Homo sapiens: one gene and its partners. The protein of the gene in region 1 purifies or fractionates together with the protein of each later gene. This does not show direct contact. Each region holds a gene or a part of one and is shown in the gene's direction. Other genes may lie near its edges.

Region 1 (3,518 bases):
AACTGCTGAGATTACAAGCATGTGCCACCATGCCCAGCTATTTTTGATTATTTTTAGTAGAGATGGGGTTTCACCACGTTGGCCAGCCTGGTTTCAAACTCCTGGGCTCAAACGATCCTTCTACTTCAGCTTCCCAATGTGCTGGGATTACAGGTGTGAACCACCATGCCTGGCTGAAATTTTCATGTCTTGTTCACTACTGCATCCCCAGAATCTAGCACACAGTAGGTGCTCAATAAATGTTTGTTGAATGAATGGATGAGTTAAAGGAGTGTTCACAAGCAACACACATTCACAGAAACTTCAGAAGGACACATAATGTGTGCACACAAACACATCCTGCTCAGCACATGACATTTCTTTGTTCATTCATGGTCAACCTTCATGGTCAAAAACCTTTATCCACTGACTTCCAACATTTTTGCAGGGACACTAACCCAATGCTACATTTCCCCTTCTCACATTTATTAAGATCCTGTTTTATTCAACTGCAAACACATTGCTTGGGACACACAATCCTCCCCCAGATTCTGAACGTATACACACACACACACACACACACACACACACACACACACACAACCACTCCACCAAGAAACACACATAAACATAACCTCATACAACAAAAACACACATACATGCTCAACACACACACAGCCACACAAACAAAAGACACAGGTGCCTGGGAACACACACAGGCTATAGGCCACACAAACACACCTTCCTCACACACATACACACACACACACACACACACACTCCCCACATATATAGATACAGAGCTTAAGCCACAAGCTGAACATAAAAACAAACACAAGGATATATACACACCAGCCCCAAGTCGGCCAGCCTTTGGTCAGCTGGAGTGTGGGCAGGACGGTGGGAGGTCCCGCCCCTGCATTAAGCCACGCCCCTTTCAGCAGCCAGTTTCCTGGACTGGATCCTGAGGTGTCTTAGCGGCCTCTAGACCCCAATCCAGCCAACAGGTGAGGGGCTGAATGCGGGGAGGCGGGAAGGGGACAGTCTTGTCTCCACAGACCGCTAGCTGTCCCTGCCTCGGGGCTTTGGGCCCCAGTGACAGAACCTGAGCCCTGCCACACCAGCCTTGGTCCCAAAGGTCCAGCTCTGGGTGGCCCCTAAGCCGATTGTGGGCCGAGAGAAGGTGACCCAGAGAAGGGCCGGCAGGGAGCGAGAGAGGGAGGAGGGAGGCCGCATAGAAGAGAGGGAGGAATTACTGAACAGGAGAGGGGGATTGGAAGACCTAGGGAGGTCCCCTTCATTCTGAGAAAAGAAGGGGTCTCTTGAAGACTAAAAAGGTGGGAGATCCTGCTGGATGGGAGGAGGGCCACTGTGGTCTAAGCTTGGTTGGGGTGGCACTGAAGGGACATAGAGGACATGGTTCTGATGGGAGGGGGGCTCCTAGGTTGGAGGCAGGCCCTGATGGTCTCCTGGGATTTGAACGTCCTTGGCCACTGCCCCAGCCTCCTCCTCAGCTGCACTTTCCCTACTCTGCCTGGCACTGCTTCTTGGGTATGCACTGGGTGGGTGCCACCCTAAGCTCACAGAAAGGGATGGCTGAACCCCACCCTATGCCTGCCAGCTCTTATCTCAGGTGGACATGGACTGCAGGGTCCACATGCGACCCATCGGCCTGACGTGGGTGCTGCAACTGACCTTGGCATGGATCCTGCTAGAAGCCTGTGGAGGGAGCCGCCCACTCCAAGCCAGGTCCCAGCAACACCATGGGCTGGCAGCTGATCTGGGCAAAGGCAAGCTGCACCTGGCAGGTGAGCACCCCAGACCCTGCCTCACCACCAACACCCAGAAACCCACACCTACCCTGCCATGACAATGTTAGAATTTCCTTATGAGAGGGGCCTAGCATGGCCACCAAGGTGGGAGGCACGGATAGTGCTGAAGAATGGTGGATAAGAATTAGACTGCCTGGGTTCAAATCCCAACTCTGCCACTTTGTAGCTGTGTGATCCTGAGGAAGTCATTTAACCTCTCTGGGTCTCACATGGACCCCCAAAAAGAGAGAAATAACAAATATACCTCGCAGAGCTGTTGTTAAGATTAAGCATATAAGCATATGAGCAGGGCTCGGTGGCTCACGCCTATAATCCCAGCACTTTGGGAGGCTGCAGTGGGCAGATCATTTGAGGTCAGGAGTTTGAGACCAGCCTGGCCAGCATGGTGAAACCCCTGTCTCTACTAATAATACAAAAATTAGCTGGACGAGGTGGCATGCGCCTGAAATCCCAGCTACTTGGGAGGCTTAGGCACGAGAATTGTTTGAACCTGGGAGGTGGAGGTTGCAGTGAGCCAAGATCACGCCACTGCACTCCAGCCTGGGTGACAGAGTGAGGCCCTGTCTCAAAAGAAAAAAAGAAAAAAAAAAAAGGAAAAGGATTAAGTATATGTGTCACTACCAGGCACATGACAAGTAAGTTGATTATTATAAACAAGAAATGATTATTACTACTTGAAGCTGCATTTGCATTCCAAAGGAAGGGTCTTAAGTTATGGGTTTGTGAGGATTGATGTAATTGTTGTCTCCCCTGTCCAGGGGATCCCCAGGCCTCAGTTCCCAAACCTTACCTGAATATCCAAGACCCTAGCTCACAGGGTTCCCCTTTGCCAGGACCTTGTTGTCCCTCAGAGATGGACACAACAGAGACATCGGGCCCTGGAAACCATCCAGAACGCTGTGGAGTGCCGAGCCCTGAGTGAGTACAGCACCCTCCACCGTTTTCTCGCGTACTTTGCCCATTGCCCAGGAACTCCCTCGGGTCCTGACCCATCCGACCCTATCTCTCCCAACGTCCAGATGCGAATCCTTCCTGGAACACCTCCAACGTGCCCTTCGCAGTCGCTTCCGCCTGCGGCTATTGGGGGTACGCCAGGCACAGCCGCTCTGCGAGGAGCTCTGCCAGGCCTGGTAGGAGACGCGGGGGCAAGGGGCGTGGGTTGTGACTTGGGCGGGGAAGAGGGCGGAGCCTGCAGTTTGCTTGGCCTTCTGTGTAAAGGGGAGTGGCCTCCAACAGGGCCAAGGTTTAAGAGATGCAGCTTAATGTTTAGAGCCCAGGTAGATAGGGGCGAGGCATGAGAAGCCCCCAGCTTTTAAGATACCTGCCATATGGCAATGTGGCTTTTCATAGCCCTGCGATTTCTTTTCTTTTCTTTCTTTCTTTTTTTTTTTGAGATGGAGTCTCACTGTGTCACCTAGGCTGGAGTGCAGTGGTGCAATCTCGGCTCACTGCAACCTCCACTTCCCGGGTTCAAGCGATTCTCCTGCCTCACCCTCCTGAGTAGCTGTGGTTACAGGCGCACACCACCATGCCCGGCTAATTTTTGTATTTTTAGTAGAGACGAGGTTTCACTATGTTGGTCAGGCTGGTCTCAGACTCCTGACCTCGTGATCCGCCCGCCTCGGCCTCCCAAAGTGCTGGGATTACAGGCGTGAGCCACCGTGCCCGGCCTTTTTTTCTTTTTTTTTTTTTTGAGATGGAGTTTTG
Region 2 (3,557 bases), on another chromosome or scaffold:
GATGGACATTTCAGTTGAAAACCCATACTGGGAGGAACAGGCTGACATTGGTAGCGTTGCCAGTGTGCCAAGTACTATAGTTCTTGGGGAGAAAGGAAGCGGAATCGCTGGCCCAGGAGTTTTGCACACACGTGTTTCAGGCTTTTGGACCATGACTCCAGGCTGGCCCACAGAAGGCCCTCGTCAGAAGAGCAGTCACAGGCCGGATGCGGTGGCTCACACCTAGAATCCCAGCCACTTTGGGAGGCCAAGGCAGGAAGATCACTTGAGCTCAGGAGTTTGAAACCAGCCTGGGCAATATAGTGAGCCCTCACCTCTACAAAAAAAAAAATTTTTTTTTTGAGACGGAGTCTCGCACTGTCACCCAGGCTGGAGTGCAATGGTGTGATCTTGGCTCACTGCAACCCCCGTCTCCCAGGTTCAAGCGATTCTCCTGTCTCAGCCTCCCGAGTAGCTGGGATTACAGGTGCACGTTACCATGCTCAACTAATTTTTTGTACTTTAGTGGAGACGGGGTTTCACTGTGTTGCCCAGGTTGGTCTCAAACTCCTGAGCTCAGGCAATCCACCCCCCTCAGCCTCCCAAAGTGCTAGGATTACAGGTGTGAGCCATTGCACCTGGCCAAAAAAAATTTTTTTTTAATTAGCCAGGCATGGTGGCTCACACCTATAGTCCCAGCTCCTCAGGAGGCTGAGGTGGGAGGAACACTTGCATGGCCTGGAAGGTCAAGGCTGCAGTGAGCTGTGATCATGCCACTGCACTCCAGCCTGGGCAGCAGAGCGAGACCCTTTCTCCAAAAAAAAAAAAAAAAAGGCCAGGCATGGTGGCTCACGCCTGTAATCCTAGCACTTTGGGAGGCCAAGGCGGGTGGTCAGGAGTTCAAGACCAGCCTGGCCAACAGCAAAATGATGCTCTAACCAAAAATTAGCTGGGCATGGTGGCATGCACCTGTAGTCCCAGCTACTCGGGAGGCTGAGGCAGGAGAATCATGTGAACCCAGGAGGCAGAGGTTGCAGTGAGCCGAGATTGCACCACTGAACTCCAGCCTGGGCGACAGAGTGAGACTCCGTCTCAAAAAAAAAAAAAACAAAGAAAAAAGGGCTGGACATGGTGGTTCACGCCTATAATCCCAGCACTTTGGGAGGCCAAGGCAGGTGGATCACTTGAGGTCAGGAGTTCGAAACCAACCTGGCCAACATAGTGAAACCCTGTCTCTACCAAAAATACAAAATTTAGGCCGGGCGCGGTGGCTCACGCCTATAATCCCAGCACTCTGGGAGGCTGAGGTGGGTGGATCACGAGGTCAGGAGATCGAGACCATCCTGGCTAACACGGTGAAACCCCGTCTCTACTAAAAAATACAAAAAAATTAGCCGGGTTTGGTGGTAGGCGCCTGTAGTCCCAGCTACTCGGGAGGCTGAGGCAGGAGAATGGCGTGAACCAGGGAGGCGGAGCTTGCAGTGAGCCGAGATCATGCCACTGCACTCCAGCCTGAGCGACAGAGCAAGACTCTGTCTCAAAAGAAAAAAAAATGCAAAAATTAGCTGGGTGTGGTGGCACACCCCTGTAGTCTCAGTTACTCAGGAGGCTGAGGCAGGAGAATCGCTTGAACCCAGGAGGCAGAGGTTGCAGTGAGTGGAGATTGCACCAGTGCACCCCAGCCTGGGCAACAGAGCGAAACTCCGTCTCACAAAAAAAAAAAAAAAAAAAAAAAAAAAAAAAACCAGGTCACACGTGCTTCTGTTCCCAGGGTGCCTCTCCCCTCTTCCCCACAGGCTGGGTCTCTGCTCCTTGCTGAGGTCTCCAGCTTTCTGCTCCTCCTAATCTGGGTCCCTTGTGCCTCCCTCATGTGCTTGTGCCTTTATCCTCTCCAAGGGAACCTTGTTGTGCAGCCTGCCAGTGGGATGCAGGGCCAGCTGTCCCTTCTCCCTGGCATCCTGCCAGCCTATCATGGTTGGTCACTAGGATTCTCCAGTGGGAGGAAACCTCAGACAAGAAAAGACACACTCCCCACCCTCAGCATCCACAGTGACCTTGATTTCTTTTCCTGCAGGTCATTTGAACCAATTCTCCGCCTCCTTCCCCAGGGAATCTCTCCTGTCAGCCAGCACTGGGCAACCTGGGCCCTGTATAACCTCGTGTCTGTCTACCGTGAGTGCCAACTTGTCCTGGGTTCAGACACTCATCCAGCTGAAAGCAGATGTGCCCTCAGGGAGTTTGTAGTCCAGGAGGGGGGCATTAATTGCTGCTGTCAGCTTTTGTGCCTCAGAGCAGAACCCTCCACTTTCCAGCGTTTGTGGGACACCCAGCTTAAGGGCTCACTCCTGCCTCATCACCAGAAGCAGGCCTGGCAGGCGAAATACCTGTGCAGAGTTCCTAGACAGCTTTCTTAATGCTTCCCGCTTCCATGTGCAGGAACAGTCCAAAATCTCCATGCCTGCTGGGCTCAGTGGTGCACACCAGCTATTCAGGAGGCCGAGACAGGAGAATTGCCTGAGGTCTGGAGTTTCCAGCTGCAATGACCTATGATCATGCCTGTGAATAGCCATTGCACTCCGGCCTGAGCAACATAGTGAGACCCCCATCTCCAGAAGTAAAATAAAAGTCTCCATGCTGTCTGCATGAAAAAAAAAAAAAACACATACCATCAGCTGGTTCCAACCTGGCAGGTCACCAGAATCACCTGGTAAAAATACAGATAAATCTTAGTCCTTGGATTTGTTGAAAAAGAATATCCAGAGACAGGGCTTAGAAATCTATATTTTTACAGAAATTCCTCAAAGGATCACCATCTTTAGGAGCCACTGGTTTCACTGGTTTGGGTGACATCTTCCATAGAATGAGCGCTGGAGGCCAGGCATAGTGGCTCACACCTGTAATCCCAGCACTTAGGGAGGCTGAGGTGGGAGGATTGTTTGAGCCCAAGAGGTTGAGACCAGCACAGGCAACACAGCGCAACCCTGTCTCTACTTAAAAAAAAAAAAATTAGTCCGGGTGCAGTGGCTCATGCCTGTAATCCTAGCACATTGGGAGGCTGAGACGGGCAGATCATTTGAGGCCAAGAGTTTGAGACCACCCTGGCCAACATAGTGAAACCCCGTCTCTACTAAAAATACAAAAATTAGCTGGGCTTGATGGCACGTGCCTGTAGTCCCAGCTACTAGGGAGGCTGAGACAAAATAATCGTTTGAACCCAGGAGGCAGAGGTTGCAGTGAGCTCAGATCGTGCCACTGCACTCCAGCCTGGGTGACAGAGTGAGACTCTGTCTCAAAAAAAAAATTATATCTATTATATATATATATATATTTTTTTTAAGATTTTATATATATATATATATATTTTTTTTTTTTTTTTTTGAGACGGAGTTTTGCTCTGTCGCCCAGGCTGGAGTGCAGTGGCGCGATCTCGACTCACTGCAAGCTCCGCCTCCCGGGTTCACGCCATTCTCCTGCCTCAGCCTCCCGTGTAGCTGGGACTACAGGCGCCCGCCACCATGCCTGGCTAATTTTTGTATTTTTAGTAGAGACGGGGTTTCACCGTGTTAGCCAGGATGGTC
Region 3 (3,719 bases), on another chromosome or scaffold:
GTGAGGATCAGGTGGACTCCCTGAGGTCAGGTCCCTCTTGGCCCAGGTGAGGATCAGATGGTCTCCTTGAGATCAGGTCCCTCATGGCTCAGGTGAGGATCAGGTGGTCTCTCTGAGGTTGGGACCCTCTTGGCTCAGGTGTGGATCAGGTGGTCTCTCTGAAGTTGGGACCCTCTTGGCCCAGGTGAGGATCAGGTGGTCTCCCCGGGTCAGGTCCCTCTTGGCCCAGGTGAGGATCATGTGGTCTCCCTGAGATTGAGACCCTCTTGGCCCAGGTGAGGATCAGGTGGTGTCCCTGAGATTGGGACCTTCTTGGCTCAGGTGTGGATCAGGTGGTCTCCCTGAGGTCAGGTCCCTCTTGGCCAGGTGAGGATCAGGTGGTCTCCCTGAGATTGGGACCCTCTTCGCCCAGGTGAGGATCAGGTGGCCTCCCTGAGATTGGGACCCTCTTGGCCCAGGTGAGGATCATGTGGTCTGCCTGAGATTGAGACCCTCTTGGCCCAGGTGAGGATCAGGTGGTCTCCCTGAGATCGGGACCCTCTTGGCTCAGGGGAGGATCAGGTGGTCTCCCTGAGGTCGGGACCCTCTTGGCCCAGGTGAGGATCAGGTGGCCTCCCTGAGATCGGGACCCTCTTGGCCCAGGTGAGGATCATGTGGTCTGCCTGAGATTGAGACCCTCTTGGCCCAGGTGAGGATCAGGTGGTCTCCCTGAGATCGGGACCCTCTTGGCTCAGGGGAGGATCAGGTGGTCTCCCTGAGGTCGGGACCCTCTTGGCTCAGGGGAGGATCAGGTGGTCTCCCTGAGATCGGGACCCTCTTGGCTCAGGGGAGGATCAGGTGGTCTCCCTGAGGTTGGGACCCTCTTGGCCCAGGTGAGGATCAGGTGGCCTCCCCGAGGTCGGGACCCTCTTGGCTCAGGAGAGGATGAGTGTGGTTTTTCTCAGTTGGGAGCCCCTTCAGAACGTGCACTCCCATCTTTTCTCATGGCGCTGCCTCTCTTCAGATCTCTGTTGAGGAGCTGGCGCGGAATCTGGTCATCAAGGTCAACAGGGATGCTGTCATGAAAATCGCGGTGGCCGGGGACTTGTTCCAACCGGAGCGAGGACTGTATCATCTGAACCTGACCGTGGGAGGTATTCCCTTCCATGAGAAGGACCTCGTGCAGCCTGTGAGTACTGTACCTGTCCCTGTGTAGACGCGCCGTGTGCTGGGATCCCGGGAACGGTGTCAGGAAGCCTCAGTCACACCCTGCCCTGTGTTTACCATTAACCAGGTGTGAGGAGGACCTAGAGGAAGGAAAGGTTTCCTAGAGTTTGACAAAGTCGCCGTACAGCTATGTCATTAATTTTACCATCTCTTTTTATGAGACCTAAGTTTTCATCTGAATTGATAATAAAGTTGTCTATTTTTCAATGGAGATAAGACACAATTAAATTATTATTATTTTTTTTGAGACGGAGTCTTGCTCTGTTGCCCAGGCTGGAGTGCAGTGGCGCGATCTCGGCTCACTGCAAGCTCCGCCTCCCGGGTTCACGCCATTCTCCTGCCTCAGCCTCCCAGGCAGCTGGGACTACAGGCGCCCGCCACCACGTCCGGCTAATTTTTTTGTATTTTTAGTAGAGACGGGGTTTCGCCGTGGTCTCGATCTTCTGACCTCGTGAACTGCCCACCTCGGCCTCCCAAAGTGCTGGGATTACAGGCGTGAGCCACCGCGCCCGGCCGAAATTATTCTTTAACAGAACAGTAAACTTTTTTGGACAATTTCCAAGAACATTTTGGGTTTTGTAACTCTGCCGTGAGTCTCATAAGGGGAAAACAGCCATGATGGGCGGTCAGTGTGGGCCATTGCTCCAGGTCCCGCCTTCTCTCCCCTTCAGCACAGCACACGCCCGTGCCCCCGACCTGTGTCTCCAGCCCCCACGTGCTGACGTCTAAGCCGTCATCCTGGGTATTTTCACTTCCACACCAGGCAGGAGAAAGGCACGCATGTCTTCGCGTCTTTGGGTGCTGAGTGTCGGCAGTGCCTGTGCTGAAGCCACCCCTTCAGTGTTGTGAGGGGCACCTGCTCCCCAGGCCCACAGACTGCCTGGTGCCGGGACCTTCGGTGTTGTGAGGGGCACCTGCTTCCCAGGCCCACAGACAGCCTGGTGCCGGGACTTTGCCTGGCTGGACCCTCCTCGTTTCACAGATAAGGGGGTTGCCCTGATTTGCCCACAGCCATATTGAATATTGAATAATTCACATGAGTGTTGGATGGTTGAACAATCCATACTCTTTGACCTTAGACCCACATGGCCTTTTCAGTCCTTTCCTAGCTTTAAAATGAACCTTTAGTTCTTGAGCATACACCAGTGGAAATAGGTATTCTGCAGTGAGGCGTTGTGTAAAGTGAAGAAACCTTCTGTGAAATGGCCACCACCGATGGGACTGGCCCGTTTCTGCCGTAGAGCTGCACATACCAGGGCCGCGAAGGCGCCACCCACCGACTGGGGCATCCGGCATGGGGCTTCTCGCTCCCAGGAAGCCACGGAGATTTCTCTGCCTTTCCAGATAAACCCTCGTCTGGATGGCTGCATGAGGAGCTGGAACTGGCTGAACGGAGAAGACACCACCATCCAGGAAACGGTGAAAGTGAACACGAGGATGCAGTGCTTCTCGGTGACGGAGAGAGGCTCTTTCTACCCCGGGAGCGGCTTCGCCTTCTACAGCCTGGACTACAGTAAGTCTTGGCTCTTACCGTTGGGGTGGCTGTGGCTGCACCTTCAGACAGGCATACGCTGAAAGCAAGCAGACGGCCTCAGATGGCAGCGTCAGGACAAGCTGAGGCTCCTCCGGTTCCGGGGCAGGGATGGGTGGGCGGGGTGGGCGGAGGTGCGGGCAGAGGCCCACCTCTCAGGATGGCCATGCAGGTCACTCAGTTCAGAGTCAGCCAGTGAAGAAGAAATGAGAGAGATGTGCCGAGAAGGTGCCTGCGAAGCCAGTGCCAGGAGGCCGGGGAGAGAAGGTGCCTGCGAGGCCGGCGCCAGGAGGCGGGGGAGAGAAGGTGCCTGCGAGGCCGGCGCCAGGAGGCCGGGGAGAGAAGGTGCCTGCGAGGCCGGCGCCGGGAGGCCGGGGAGAGAAGGTGCCTGCGAGGCCAGCGCCGGGAGGCCGGGGAGAGAAGGTGCCTGCGAGGCCGGCGCCGGGAGGCCGGGGAGAGAAGGTGCCTGCGAGGCCGGCGCCGGGAGGCCGGGGAGAGAAGGTGCCTGCGAGGCCGGCGCCGGGAGGCTGGGGAGAGAAGGTGCCTGCGAGGCCAGCGCCGGGAGGCCGGGGAGAGAAGGTGCCTGCGAGGCCGGGGAGGCTGGGAGCCTTACAGGGTCCTTTGCAGAAAGTCCGGAGACAGCACAGCCTTAGGACTCGTCCAGGGGCACAGAGAAGCTCTCGGTAACATGGTGGACACCGTGGTCACCGATGACCCGGTGAGACAGCTACAATGGGAGGTGTGTAAAAACAGCCGTGAAGCTGCCTGGGGGACAGTGAACCTAGGCCTGAAAAAGGGAGGACAGGGTGGATGTGAGCTGCTGGCCCAGTCCTGTGACGCCACGCTGCCGCCCTCCCCAGTGCAGGCTCCGGGGGTGCTGCTGTGAGGATAGTGTTACTGCTCGGCCCCACCCTGCCTCACATTCCCACCCCACGTGGGCCCCACTGGGGCACCACAGCCCTGCCCTATTCCTGGACACCGA
Region 4 (3,719 bases), on another chromosome or scaffold:
CCGGACAGTTCAAGGTGTTTGCCGTCTTTTCCTCCCAATTGGTAAAGAAGGACCTCTTAATTAGAAGTTCAGGCAAAGGGAAAGTTAGCTTCTCTATACAAATACAGTTGTCTAATTGGTATATAAAAGCTCATCACCTTTTTTGTAGTTGCAGAGTTAATTTATTCCATAAATACTTTTAATGCTTATAGTATATATTGTGATGGGCCTTGCTGGGGGATACTGGACTAAACAGCCCCTCCCCCCCTTTTTTTTTCTGAGGCGGAGTCTCAGTCTGTCCAGGCTGGAGTGCATTGGCGCAATCTCCTCTCACTGCAACCTCTGCCGCCCAGGTTCAAGCGATTTTCTTGCCTCAGCCTCCCAAGTAGCTGGTATTACAGGCGCCTGCCACTGTGCCCGGCTAATTTTTGTATTTTTAGTAGAGACGGGGTTTCATCATCTTGGCCAGGCTGGTCTTGAACTCCTGACGTGGTGATCCACCTCGGCCGCCTAAAGTGCTGGGATTACAGGTGTGAGCCACTGTGCCTGGCCTCTCTCTTTTTTTTTTTTAAACTAAGTTTATATTATGAATATACGAATGTTTATCAAAATGCTTACCATGTGCCAAGCCCTGGGGATGTTTTGTATACTAGAAAAGGAAAAGAATAATGTGTTACTTGCTTCCTTGAGATCCTAATATTTAAAAGTACTAGCCAAAATTGTAAATGATAATTAAATTGGTTGATTGCACCCTCAGTAGTACATTAGTATTGTTATAATATTGTGACTTTTTTCAACTGCAGTGAGAGTAGCATGTTTGTCTCCAAGAGACGTTTCATTTTGAAGACATGTGGTACCACCCTCTTGCTGAAAGCACTGGTTCCCCTGTTGAAGCTTGCTAGGGATTACAGTGGGTTTGACTCAATTCAAGTAAGTAAGCAAACATTTAAATATTTTTCAGGCATAAATGTTAGCGTTCTTATCCTGTAATATGCGAAGTAAATAAATTTATATACTTACTGCCTTTGTTACAATGCATGCAAACACGTGGTAAGGTGTTCATACCTTAGGAAGAGATCTGATTCTCAAGAACAGCAGAAAATAGGAAGCAGAGAATGAGTTAGGATGAAATTCAAATGGGAGAAAGAAATGAAGAAGCCAGACACTTCCAGTAGTTAATTTCTTAACATGGCTACTTATAATAATAGAGAAATGGTAAGAAAAGAAGGAAAAGCAAGAAAAATGTCGTTACTGAAATTGTCCAGTCTTTATAATGAAGAGTTAGGATGAAGAGCAACAGTCAGTATTGAGTTAAATTCTTATACTTTTCAAGAACTAAGGTGTTTTTACCTAGGGTATAATTTTCTGATTAGCAGTTGTTACATTTTATTTATTTTTTATTTTTTTGAGATGGAGTTTCGCTCTTGTTTCCCAGGCTGGAATGCAATAGCACGATCTCAGCTCACTGCAATCTGCACCTCCCAGGTTCAAGTGATTCTCCTGCCTCAGCCTCCCAAGTAGCTGGGATCACAGGTGCCCACCACCATGCCTGGCTAATTTTTTTTGTATTTTTAGTAGAGACGGTGTTTCACCATGTTGGCCAGGCTGGTCTCTTAACTCCTGACCTCAGGTGTTCCACCCACCTCAGTCTCCTAAAGTGCTGGGATTGCAGGCGTGAGCCACTGCACCCGGCCTGAATTTTAATCTTTAACTTCATAAGGAAAGGATGGATTGTCATTAGTACTCAATACAGTTTTTGTTGTTATGAATTGATCCTTGTAAGAAATCTAAAGCAATGTGTGCTTAACCGATGCTTAAAACTAATATGTTATTCCCCCCAAATTTTTGCTTATATGACTATTAATAAGCTCAGTTTAGAAACTACTGTTCTAGAAAGGAATATACTTGGTGTTAATAGTTGTTATGACCCATCATCACTAGACTGGGCTTTTTAAAAAAAAGAGAGAGAGAGAGAGATGGGGCCTCAGTATGTTGCCCAGGCTGGACTCCTGGGCCAAGTGATCCTCCTGCCTCCTAATAGCGAGACTACAGGCATATGCTACCATGCCAAGCTAAAATATTTGAGTTTTGATTTTGCCGAGTTTTTGATATGTGGACAATAGTTGATTAGCTTCGAAAAGTGATAGAATTCTACATCTAAAGTCATCTTTTTTTTTCTTTCTTTTCTTTTTTAATAAAGAGCTTCTTTTATTCTCGTAAGAATTTCATGAAGCCTTCTCACCAAGGGTACCCACACCGGAATTTCCAGGAAGAAATAGAGTTTCTTAATGCAATTTTCCCAAGTAAGTTTAAATAAAATATAAACCTGTTGTCTTCTTAAAGATAGAAAGTGCAACCTCAGAGATCTTTCTATATGAGAGCATACTTATGCATATATAGCATTCTACACACACTAATACTTGCTTTTCTTGTGGGTTTTTTGGTTTGTTTTAGACAGGGGTCTCATTCTGTCACCCATGCTGGTGCAGTGGTGTGATCACAGCTCACTGCAGCCTCAACATCCCAGGCTTAAGTGATCCTCCCACCTTAGCCTCCCAAGTAGCTGGGGCTACAGATGTTTGCCACCCCACCTGGCTAATTTTTTTTTAATTTTTAGTAAAGACAAGGTTTTGCCATATTGCCCAGGCCGGTCTTGAACGCCTGGGCTCAAGGGATCCACCTGCCTTGGCCTCCCAAAGTGCTAGGATTACAAGTGTGAGTTACTGCACCTGGTCCATATTTACTTTGACTTAGATGTTTTGGGAGTACAGTAGTGATCTTTATATAGCTTGTAATTCAAAATATGCAGAATTTATAAAGAACATTAAAATATCAGATAAAATATTTTTAGTTAAGATTAATAGCTTATTGCAAATTATGTATACACATGTAAAAATAATTGTGTATCATAAATCAGTGCTGTTTAAATGATGGAATTTTAAAATGTAGAATTGATCACCTGCCACCTCTGATTTTTCATACAGCATAGAGAGAGTTCATCTTCATCTGGCCATTCACTCTACTTTATGTCTCACTCAGTGGTTCTTTTTGCGTTTTTGTTTGAGACAAGTTTCACTTTGTCTCCCAGGCTGGAGAGCAGTGGCATCATTATAGCTCACTGCATTGTCAAACTCTTGAGTTCAAGCACCCAGCTAATTTTTATTTTATTTTTAGTAGAGATGGAATCTTGCTGTGTTGCCCAGGCTGGTCTTGAACTCCTGCCCTCTAGCAGTCCTCCAGCCTCAGTGGTTCTTAACATACAGATCATAATGTCCTTTGACAATATGAAGAAGGATATGATTCCCTTCAGAAAAATGCCTAGTGCTCTGCTCCAGCATTTTATATAATAATTGACCTGGCTTTTTAAAATTGCACAGTGTAAATTAGTGTTTCTTGAATGAAATTCGTAAGGGTTTCTTTCATCCATTTACTAAGCTTTTATTTATAGAGGTCAGGGAACAAAGGTTATCTGATAACATCCTTACTTCCTAGATAAGGCTGAAAACCTAAGATAATTTAGTAACTTTGCACAAAGTCGCTCATAAGCATGAAAATTGAACTTAGCACATCTACTAATATGAAACCAAACCAGGCTAATCAGAGTGTTGGGTATTTACTGCAAATACCCGCCAAGTCAGTCGATCCTGCTTATCTGGGAATTTACCTACTGTTTCCATTCCTTTCACTGATGACATTTCTTTTTTCTTGAGATGGCGTCTCGCTTTGTCACCCAGGCTGGA
Region 5 (3,719 bases), on another chromosome or scaffold:
CGTTCACCTCAGACTTTCTGATTACGTTTCTGTGTAGAAAAAACAAGACCAGAAAGCTCCAGATAAAGAGGCCATACTGCGGGCCACCGCCAACCTGCCCTCCTACAACATGGACCGGGCCGCGGTCCAGACCAACATGAGAGACGTGAGTGTCAGCCCAGAGCGGCGGCGGGTGCATGGGGTCCCCGTGTGGGGGATTGCTGTGGGGGGGTTCCTGCGGGGCGGGGCAGCAAGAGGAGATTCTCTGGGAGGATTTGGGGAAGCCGGTGAGCGGGTCTGTAGGACTGCACTATTTTGCATTTTTTCTGTAAATCAAAAATTATTTCCAAGTAAGAGTTGGAAAGCCATCTGAAGGCAGGATTGAAAAGATAGATACCCCTGGGAAAACGTCAATCCGGCCCTGAGTTTGGCAAAACGTTTAGATAGAATTCTGAACCCGAAGCGGGTGGATCACCTGAGGTCAGAAGTTCGAGACCAGCCTGGCCAACATGATGAAACTCCGTCTCTACTAAAAATACCAAAAATTAGCCGGGCGTAGTGGCAGGCACCTGTAATCCCAGCTATTCAGGAGGCTGAGACAGGAGAATCACTTGAACCCGGGAGGCGGAGGTTGCAGTAAGCCGAGATTGCATCATCGTACTCCAGCCTCGGCAGCAAGAGCGAAACTCCGTCTCAAGAAAAAAAAAAACACACAAATCTGAACCCGTGAGTTATTTTGGGTCAGAACATTCTAAGTTAAAAAAGAAAAGTGTTTGCAGTGCTCACGTGGACGCCGCAGCAGGCAGGGCAGGCACGTGCTGTGCCGGGGTGGGAGGACGGCTGGCTTCCAACTTCATCTGATGCCAGTCCAACCTAAGGGCACTGCTATAAGCCCTGTTTCATTTTAGGAATGAACCTCTTGGGGTGTCTTCCAGAGAGTTCTGTGCTGACCAGGGCATGGTGGCTTTTCCCCAGCAGCCAGCATGTGTGTCTCCCATCCTGTGTGTGTCCGGCTCAGAGGTATTTCTCTAGTGTGGTGTCCGCACCAAGGCTCACACTTGTGTGAGAGTAGGGACAGCTGACGCCTGACCTCTAGGCCCTGTAGCCAGGAGCTGTTCTGGAGGGCATCTCCGGTCCATCCCACGGCTCCTCCTGCCTGGGGAGGACAGTGATGGCCGCCGCAGACGCTGTGTGGCAGCCATGCCTCCACTGGGGGCTGGCAGACTCATGGGGGTGGAGCCTCAGATGATTCTGTTTTCTTCAGTGAAGCCAGAGAGGGTCTTCAGCTTGCCCTGCACCTGCGCCAGCTGGGCCGACGGTTTCCTCACAGGGCACAGGCTGAGTATCGGGCCAGCACTGAGTGACCGTCACCAGGCGTTCCTGTCCCTTTCCACTGGCTTCAGTCCCACCTGCAGGGAGGCTCTTGGCCCTGCCAATCCCCTGCCTTGCCCTCAGCTGATCCTGCTGTCTTGCAAGAAAGCAATGTCATCTCAACTCTCAGAATCAAGAGTTCTAGGACAGGGGAGCAAGTCATAGATCCAAGTAGGTTTGGTGGACATTTAGAGAATTGATCTCCTTTTTTTTCACCACAGTTCCAGACAGAACTCCGGAAGATACTGGTGTCTCTCATCGAGGTGGCGCAGAAGCTGTTAGCGCTGAACCCAGATGCAGTGGAATTGTTTAAGAAGGCGAATGGTATGAGTCAACCCCGATGCTGCATTCCAGGGCGGTTCACTGCCGGCCTTGGGGAGCGTCTGCAGCTCCACGCACTGACCACTGACCGGAACCTCAGTGCTTTATGGAAGCGCTGATGAGGGCCTGGGGCCTGCCTCACCGGCAACTCCTGTTGATGTGCCTGAGGGCGGGCAGGTGGAGCTCAGACAGATAATTGCTGCAAATGTTTGTGCTCAGATAAGGCCCCTGAACCTGAGGCTGGAGCCCTCATGGCCCTGTCGTCTCCCTGCAGCAATGCTGGACGAGGACGAGGATGAGCGTGTGGACGAGGCTGCCCTGCGGCAGCTCACGGAGATGGGCTTTCCGGAGAACAGAGCCACCAAGGCCCTTCAGCTGAACCAGTGCGTGGGGGGCCACCTCCTTCCCTTGCCGGAGACACCTGGGGCCTGGTTTTGTGGGGCTCCCACCGTGGGTGACGTCCTCCTACCCTAAACTCTTTGACTGAATCATTTCTAACGTGGGGTTTTGAAGAGGTACCTTAAATATGTGCCTCCAAAGTGTTTTTGGGGTGAATGTGACAGAACAGTCGTTGTGTAAATTCTCTTTGGGCCGTTGTATGAGAACTCAAGGTGAATCCCGTTCGTAGCAGGGACACGGCCTCTAACAGTCTTCTCAGGATTCCCGTGTGAGTTACTTGCCCTGCTTCTGTGTTCAGATCTAAAATGAATAATCCGAGATCCAGGGGCAGCCGGGGGCAGTTCCCCCTGTGGTCCCTATCTAAGCCCTCAGCAGATATCTCTGGGTCCGCTTGCCTCTCCTTAGACATGGGCTTCTGATTCTGCCCAGGGTCTCAAGGTAGTCTGAGGCAAGGACCAGCGCTTCCGTCGCACCTGTGTTCATTCAGGTTCTTGTTATAAGGGTCACCAGCTGATGCTGGAGAAGTCACTACCATAGCAGAGGCTCTTCTTGGGAATGGACAGGAGGCGAAGGCCCTGGTCCGTTAGTCTGGGGATGTTGGAAAGAGTCTCTTGCCTTGCAGCATGTCGGTGCCTCAGGCCATGGAGTGGCTAATTGAACACGCAGAAGACCCGACCATAGACACGCCTCTTCCTGGCCAAGCTCCCCCAGAGGCCGAGGGGGCCACAGCAGCTGCCTCCGAGGCTGCCGCGGGAGCCAGCGCCACCGATGAGGAGGCCAGAGATGAGCTGACGGAAATCTTCAAGAAGATCCGGAGGAAAAGGGAGTTTCGGGCTGATGCTCGGGTATGTGTTACTAGACCTGTCGCCAGGCAGAGTCGCTGTGTCTTCCCTTGAGGTGGCGCCATGGAAAGGAAGCTGGGGCTGCATGGCTGACCTTGGGCTGAGCTGGCTCCTGTCCCAGGAGAGAGAGAAGCTGGGGAAGGGGTTTACAGGTGGGCCTGGGAAATGGCGAGCCTGGGGGCGGTGGGCCTGGGGACCGTGGCCCGAGTTTCTGAGCACACCTGTAAGTTATCCTGGCTTGAATCCAGGCGCCCCAGTTTCCTCTGTGTTGCCACATTCGTCACCTTTTGAAAAACTTGATATTTTACAGTTCCTTCTGACCACTCATCCACAAGCCCCCCCTGTTCGGCAGCCTCTCTGCGGGGTGGGGGCCCTGCCCAGAGACCGGGAGGGTCATTTGCCGTCGGGGGTGTCCATGAGCGAGGGGCCGCTCAGGCTGCCAGCCGCCTCCATGGCACAGTCTGCAGGGCTGAAGGGTCCCTGCGCCTGTGTGTGTGGACCTTCCTCGCCCGCGCCTCATCTCCCCATTCTTCCTTCTCTCTCCTGTTCTTTGATTCGGGTTTTACTTCCTCCTTGGAGGTTTCTGTCTGTCTCCGACATGCTCAGATGGCAGATCTGCTCCATCTGCATGCTGTCGTCTCGTGTGGCACTGATCGTTTCCTTGGGGTGTGTGACATTGTGCTGTGGCCTCACCTGCGGAGCTCGTGTTTTCCATGGAGTTCCATGTGGCCAGGCTGTAGACATCCACCTGGGGTGATTCTGAGTTTGCTTCTGCTGGTGATGAGTGGGGCCCCTGCCCCACCATGT
Region 6 (3,719 bases), on another chromosome or scaffold:
CCAACTTAGCATTTATACGGGGTCAGCTTGAAAATGTAAGTAAATTGCTTTGTAATATCTTGAATTTATGAAGGAGTAGCTTCAAGGGAACTGTAATAGTAAGAGTACAGGCTAAGCTGCTATAACAAAGAGACCCTAGAATATAGTGACTCAAACAAGATAAAAGTGTATTTCTCTTTATTGTGTTAGTCCAGAGATAGGCTAAAGACTGAAGGCAGACAGACATAGGCACCTTTGCTCTCTGATCCAGAAGTCCAGGTTTCTTCTAAGATAAGCCCTCCTCTGCCTAGGTGAGCTGACTCACCTCCAGTCTGCAGGAAGGGGGAGAAGATGGACTGTGAGCAGCTTCCTTATAAAACATGATTAGAAGTTCACGTTCTTTCTGCCTGCATCCCTTGGCCTAAATTTTATCATATGACCATATCTAACTTAAGGGTGTCCAATCTGCTAAAATTGACTGAATTTTTTTTTTAAGATAAGGTCTTGCTCTGTTGCCCAGGTTGGAGTGCGGTGGCTTAATCATGGCTGACTGCAACCTCGACCTGCCAGGCTCAGTTGATCCTCTCACCTCAGCCTCCTGAGTAGCTGGGATTCCAGGCGTGTGCCACAACACTTGGCTAATTTTCTTATTTATTTATTTATTTATTTATTTATTTATTGTAGAGACGGGATTTCACCATATTTCCCAGGCTAAATCGAGGGGACTCTGTAATCAAAAAGATGGAGAAGAGAATGACTATTAGGAGACAGTTTGTAGTCTCTGCCACAGTGGGTTTGGATAAGAACTTAATCTCTGAGGTTGTTTTCTACTCATCAGAGAGTAGTTTAAGGTACACAGAGGATGTTGAGGGTCCTGATATTTTGATCTGTTTTCGCTTCAAAAGGGTACTTTTCTGTGTGTGAGTGTGCGTGTGTGTGGGTATATGGGTTTTACAAGGAATGTTGCATCAGACTGGCACTTAGAATCCAGGGTCATATATATATATATAAAATGGGGCCCAATTAAAAGAAAAATCTTTTCCTTATGCTTTTAGGCTGAACAACTTTTTAAAGCAACAATGAGTTACCTCCTTGGAGGGGGCATGAAGCAGGTAAGGACATTGCCTAGTATTGGCCCCTCACTGAAGCAGTTTTCAAAACAGTCTTGTCTCCTGAAAACTCCTCCTAGCCCCACCACATGCTTTGGTCAGGAAAGGTGGAGTTTCCCTTCTGAGATCTCTATACAAATTGCCATTCTTTCACTAAATGCAACAGCATGCTTGCCAAGGAATTCACAGTTGGCTCATCACTCTAAAAGAATAAAGACTGTGGCTTTGAGGCCACCGTCAGTCTGGAAGTTGATCTGAAATATGCCATGAAAAAATTTACTTGTTATGAGTTCCCTTCATTCTCTTTCTCTCACAGGAGGACAATGCAATAATTGAAATTTCCCTAAAGCTGGCCAGTATCTATGCTGCGCAGAACAGGTAAGTACAGCAGCCAGGGAGTAGGACTGTGGGCAGGAAACTTTGACTCTGGGATGTTACATAATATTCATTGTCTACTGGTCATCTGGGTCTCCCAGAAATTGGGTGTCACACTCAAAGTGTTCCATCCCTCATCTTTGAAATTGTCAGTCTTTTTCCAGTTTGCCCCTACTGTTTCCATCAGCCTGCCTAGTGGGGCACACAACATCTCTGGCTGCCCTGTGACAAAACTAACTAAGTTTTCTGTTGCTGCTTGAAGTGGGAAGGGAAGTTAGAGTTAGAACTTTAGTTTAACTTTTCCTAGAAGAGGAAAGAGCAGTGTGAAAGCTGCTGGGGATAATATATTAATACTCTGAAGAAGCCATTTTGCTGGTATAAATAGAGTTCAAAGATGAAGCATCTAGGTTGTAAGCAGAGAACTCCTCTAGAGAGTTGTATTTGGGATGAATTTAGGGAGAGACCTAAGACTAGCTTCCCTTCAGGTTTTAGTGGTGCAGAAGTTGGTGCGAGAGGTTTGGAGTGACATGGAGCCTGATGCTGTAGAAAGGGTGCTCACTGAGGCCAGGCCCTGGCACTGTTCCCTACTGTCCTACTCACCAGCTCCTTTGTTCTCATCAGGACCTGCATAGTCTCCTTGCATTTTGATTGGACACTAGATAGGCTAGAGCTTCCTGGAGCCTTTGACTTCAAGTCTTTTGAGGAGCTTTGAGCTTGGCCCATGCCAGGGAACACTGCAGCTTGGTCAATCTTTCTTGGAGTTGTAACAAACATGCCTAGTTCTTGATTGGGTATGAATCCCTAGGGTAAGAAGAAGCCCAGAGCCTAATAAACATTGTTGAGTAAGACAAATTCATAGTCTTCTAGAGGTGAAAGCTAGTAACAATTAGCCTCTGAGTTACATGGTACTCTGTACTTTTCATTTTGTTTTATTAAGAGAAGCATGAGACTAGAAAAGACATGGCCAGATCTGAGGCTTCGAAAGGCTGATATAGGTTATGAGGGGAATTGTTTGTAGACCTCTTGCTCCGACTGGGAGCGTCTTCTGGGCAGTGTCCACTTGCCCTGTGTTATGGCTAGAGAGGGCCCTCTTGCCAAGTTTTGAGCGTAGGGAAGGAAGGGGATGCTTCTGTTCTTCTGAGAACAGAGCAGAACAGTAGGGTCATAAGTTCTCCCCTGGCAAAGCACTAGAGAACAGGTGAGCTTTTTAGTGCCACTTCTGTAAGAAACTAGAGCCAAAACTGAAGAAAAGAACCAAAGCTGAGCTCCTAAATGGAGAAGGGATTTCTGTCACATTTCCTCTGCATCTCTGTAAAAAGCAGCAGTCAGTCGGCCTGCTTGGGTTGACTCAACCCTCTCCAGTTGATTGAGGGTCCAGGGCTACAGAGTTGGGTTAAATGACTTCTATTGCCATAGCTAGGAGTCCCATTTCTGCAAAAGAAACTTTTATCAGAGACTTATAGCTTGAAAGAAATATAAAATGACTAAAGCTCCTCAGAAGCTGTATGAGGTCAACAGTTGGAATCCTCACTGTAGGGCGGCCTGAACTGTTTAGGGTAGTATTACTTTGAACAGGGGTAAGGCTTTCACACATGGAGAAGTTGATTCACTGGAGGCCATCTGTTAGTGGGAGATGATGAATACTGCTGGCTATGTCAGTTATTAAAATTAGGGCAGCATTCCTAGCTTTTTGTGTCCTAAGTTATATTAAATGGATGACTTAAAAAAACTGCTTTGAGAAATGGCAGATTTGACACTACTTAGACTTTAAGCAAAGTTCCCTCTTCCCATTTTACACTTCCTTTACTGATAATGTTTAAACTGAGCTGGAAAAATGAAGATAAAAAGAATTTGTGAAAAGGTAAATGGGCCGGGCGCAGTGGCTCACGCCTGTAATCCCACCACTTTGGGAGGCCGAGGTGGGTGGATCACTTAAGGTCAGGAGTTCCAGACCAGCCTGGCCAACATGGTGAAACTCTGTCTTTACCAAAAATACAAAAATTAGCTGGGCATAGTGGCGGGCACCTGTAATCCCAGCTATTCGAGAGGCTAAGGCAGGAGAATCGCTTGAACCCCGGAGGTGGAGGTTGCTCTGAGCCGAGGTCACGCCATTGCACTCCAGCCTGGGCAACAAGAGCGAAACTCCATCTCAACAGAAGGAAGAAAAAAAAAAGAAGAAAAGGTAAATGGCTGATTATTGATTTTGCTTTACAGACAGGAATTTGCTGTTGCTGGCTATGAATTCTGCATTTCAAC

The links.
Region 2: the proteins of RTBDN (region 1) and ZER1 purify together in Homo sapiens (affinity purification with mass spectrometry; 3 studies listed by BioGRID and IntAct, with this or other methods). This does not show direct contact.
Region 3: the proteins of RTBDN (region 1) and GAS6 purify together in Homo sapiens (affinity purification with mass spectrometry; 3 studies listed by BioGRID and IntAct, with this or other methods). This does not show direct contact.
Region 4: the proteins of RTBDN (region 1) and AMD1 purify together in Homo sapiens (affinity purification with mass spectrometry; 2 studies listed by BioGRID and IntAct, with this or other methods). This does not show direct contact.
Region 5: the proteins of RTBDN (region 1) and UBAC1 purify together in Homo sapiens (affinity purification with mass spectrometry; 3 studies listed by BioGRID and IntAct, with this or other methods). This does not show direct contact.
Region 6: the proteins of RTBDN (region 1) and TTC19 purify together in Homo sapiens (affinity purification with mass spectrometry; 3 studies listed by BioGRID and IntAct, with this or other methods). This does not show direct contact.

What each region holds. Positions count from the first base shown.
Region 1 is NC_000019.10:12,828,080-12,831,597, reverse strand, and holds part of RTBDN (retbindin isoform 1 precursor), read left to right. Parts: intron 1-918; exon of another isoform or gene 919-986; intron 987-1,169; exon of another isoform or gene 1,170-1,316; intron 1,317-1,600; coding exon of another isoform or gene 1,601-1,618; coding exon 1,619-1,787; intron 1,788-2,644; coding exon 2,645-2,729; intron 2,730-2,830; coding exon 2,831-2,941; intron 2,942-3,518.
Region 2 is NC_000009.12:128,733,928-128,737,484, reverse strand, and holds part of ZER1 (protein zer-1 homolog), read left to right. Parts: intron 1-2,053; coding exon 2,054-2,151; intron 2,152-3,557. UniProt on the Homo sapiens protein: Serves as substrate adapter subunit in the E3 ubiquitin ligase complex ZYG11B-CUL2-Elongin BC. Acts to target substrates bearing N-terminal degrons for proteasomal degradation with the first four residues of substrates being the key recognition elements.
Region 3 is NC_000013.11:113,825,996-113,829,714, reverse strand, and holds part of GAS6 (growth arrest-specific protein 6 precursor), read left to right. Parts: intron 1-1,003; coding exon 1,004-1,168; intron 1,169-2,550; coding exon 2,551-2,719; intron 2,720-3,719. UniProt on the Homo sapiens protein: Ligand for tyrosine-protein kinase receptors AXL, TYRO3 and MER whose signaling is implicated in cell growth and survival, cell adhesion and cell migration.
Region 4 is NC_000006.12:110,888,075-110,891,793, forward strand, and holds part of AMD1 (S-adenosylmethionine decarboxylase proenzyme), read left to right. Parts: intron 1-261; exon of another isoform or gene 262-332; intron 333-782; coding exon 783-909; intron 910-2,179; coding exon 2,180-2,282; intron 2,283-3,719.
Region 5 is NC_000009.12:135,944,224-135,947,942, reverse strand, and holds part of UBAC1 (ubiquitin-associated domain-containing protein 1), read left to right. Parts: intron 1-37; coding exon 38-145; intron 146-1,571; coding exon 1,572-1,674; intron 1,675-1,945; coding exon 1,946-2,054; intron 2,055-2,692; coding exon 2,693-2,915; intron 2,916-3,719.
Region 6 is NC_000017.11:16,002,797-16,006,515, forward strand, and holds part of TTC19 (tetratricopeptide repeat protein 19, mitochondrial isoform 1 precursor), read left to right. Parts: coding exon 1-35; intron 36-1,034; coding exon 1,035-1,091; intron 1,092-1,404; coding exon 1,405-1,466; intron 1,467-3,677; coding exon 3,678-3,719. UniProt on the Homo sapiens protein: Required for the preservation of the structural and functional integrity of mitochondrial respiratory complex III by allowing the physiological turnover of the Rieske protein UQCRFS1.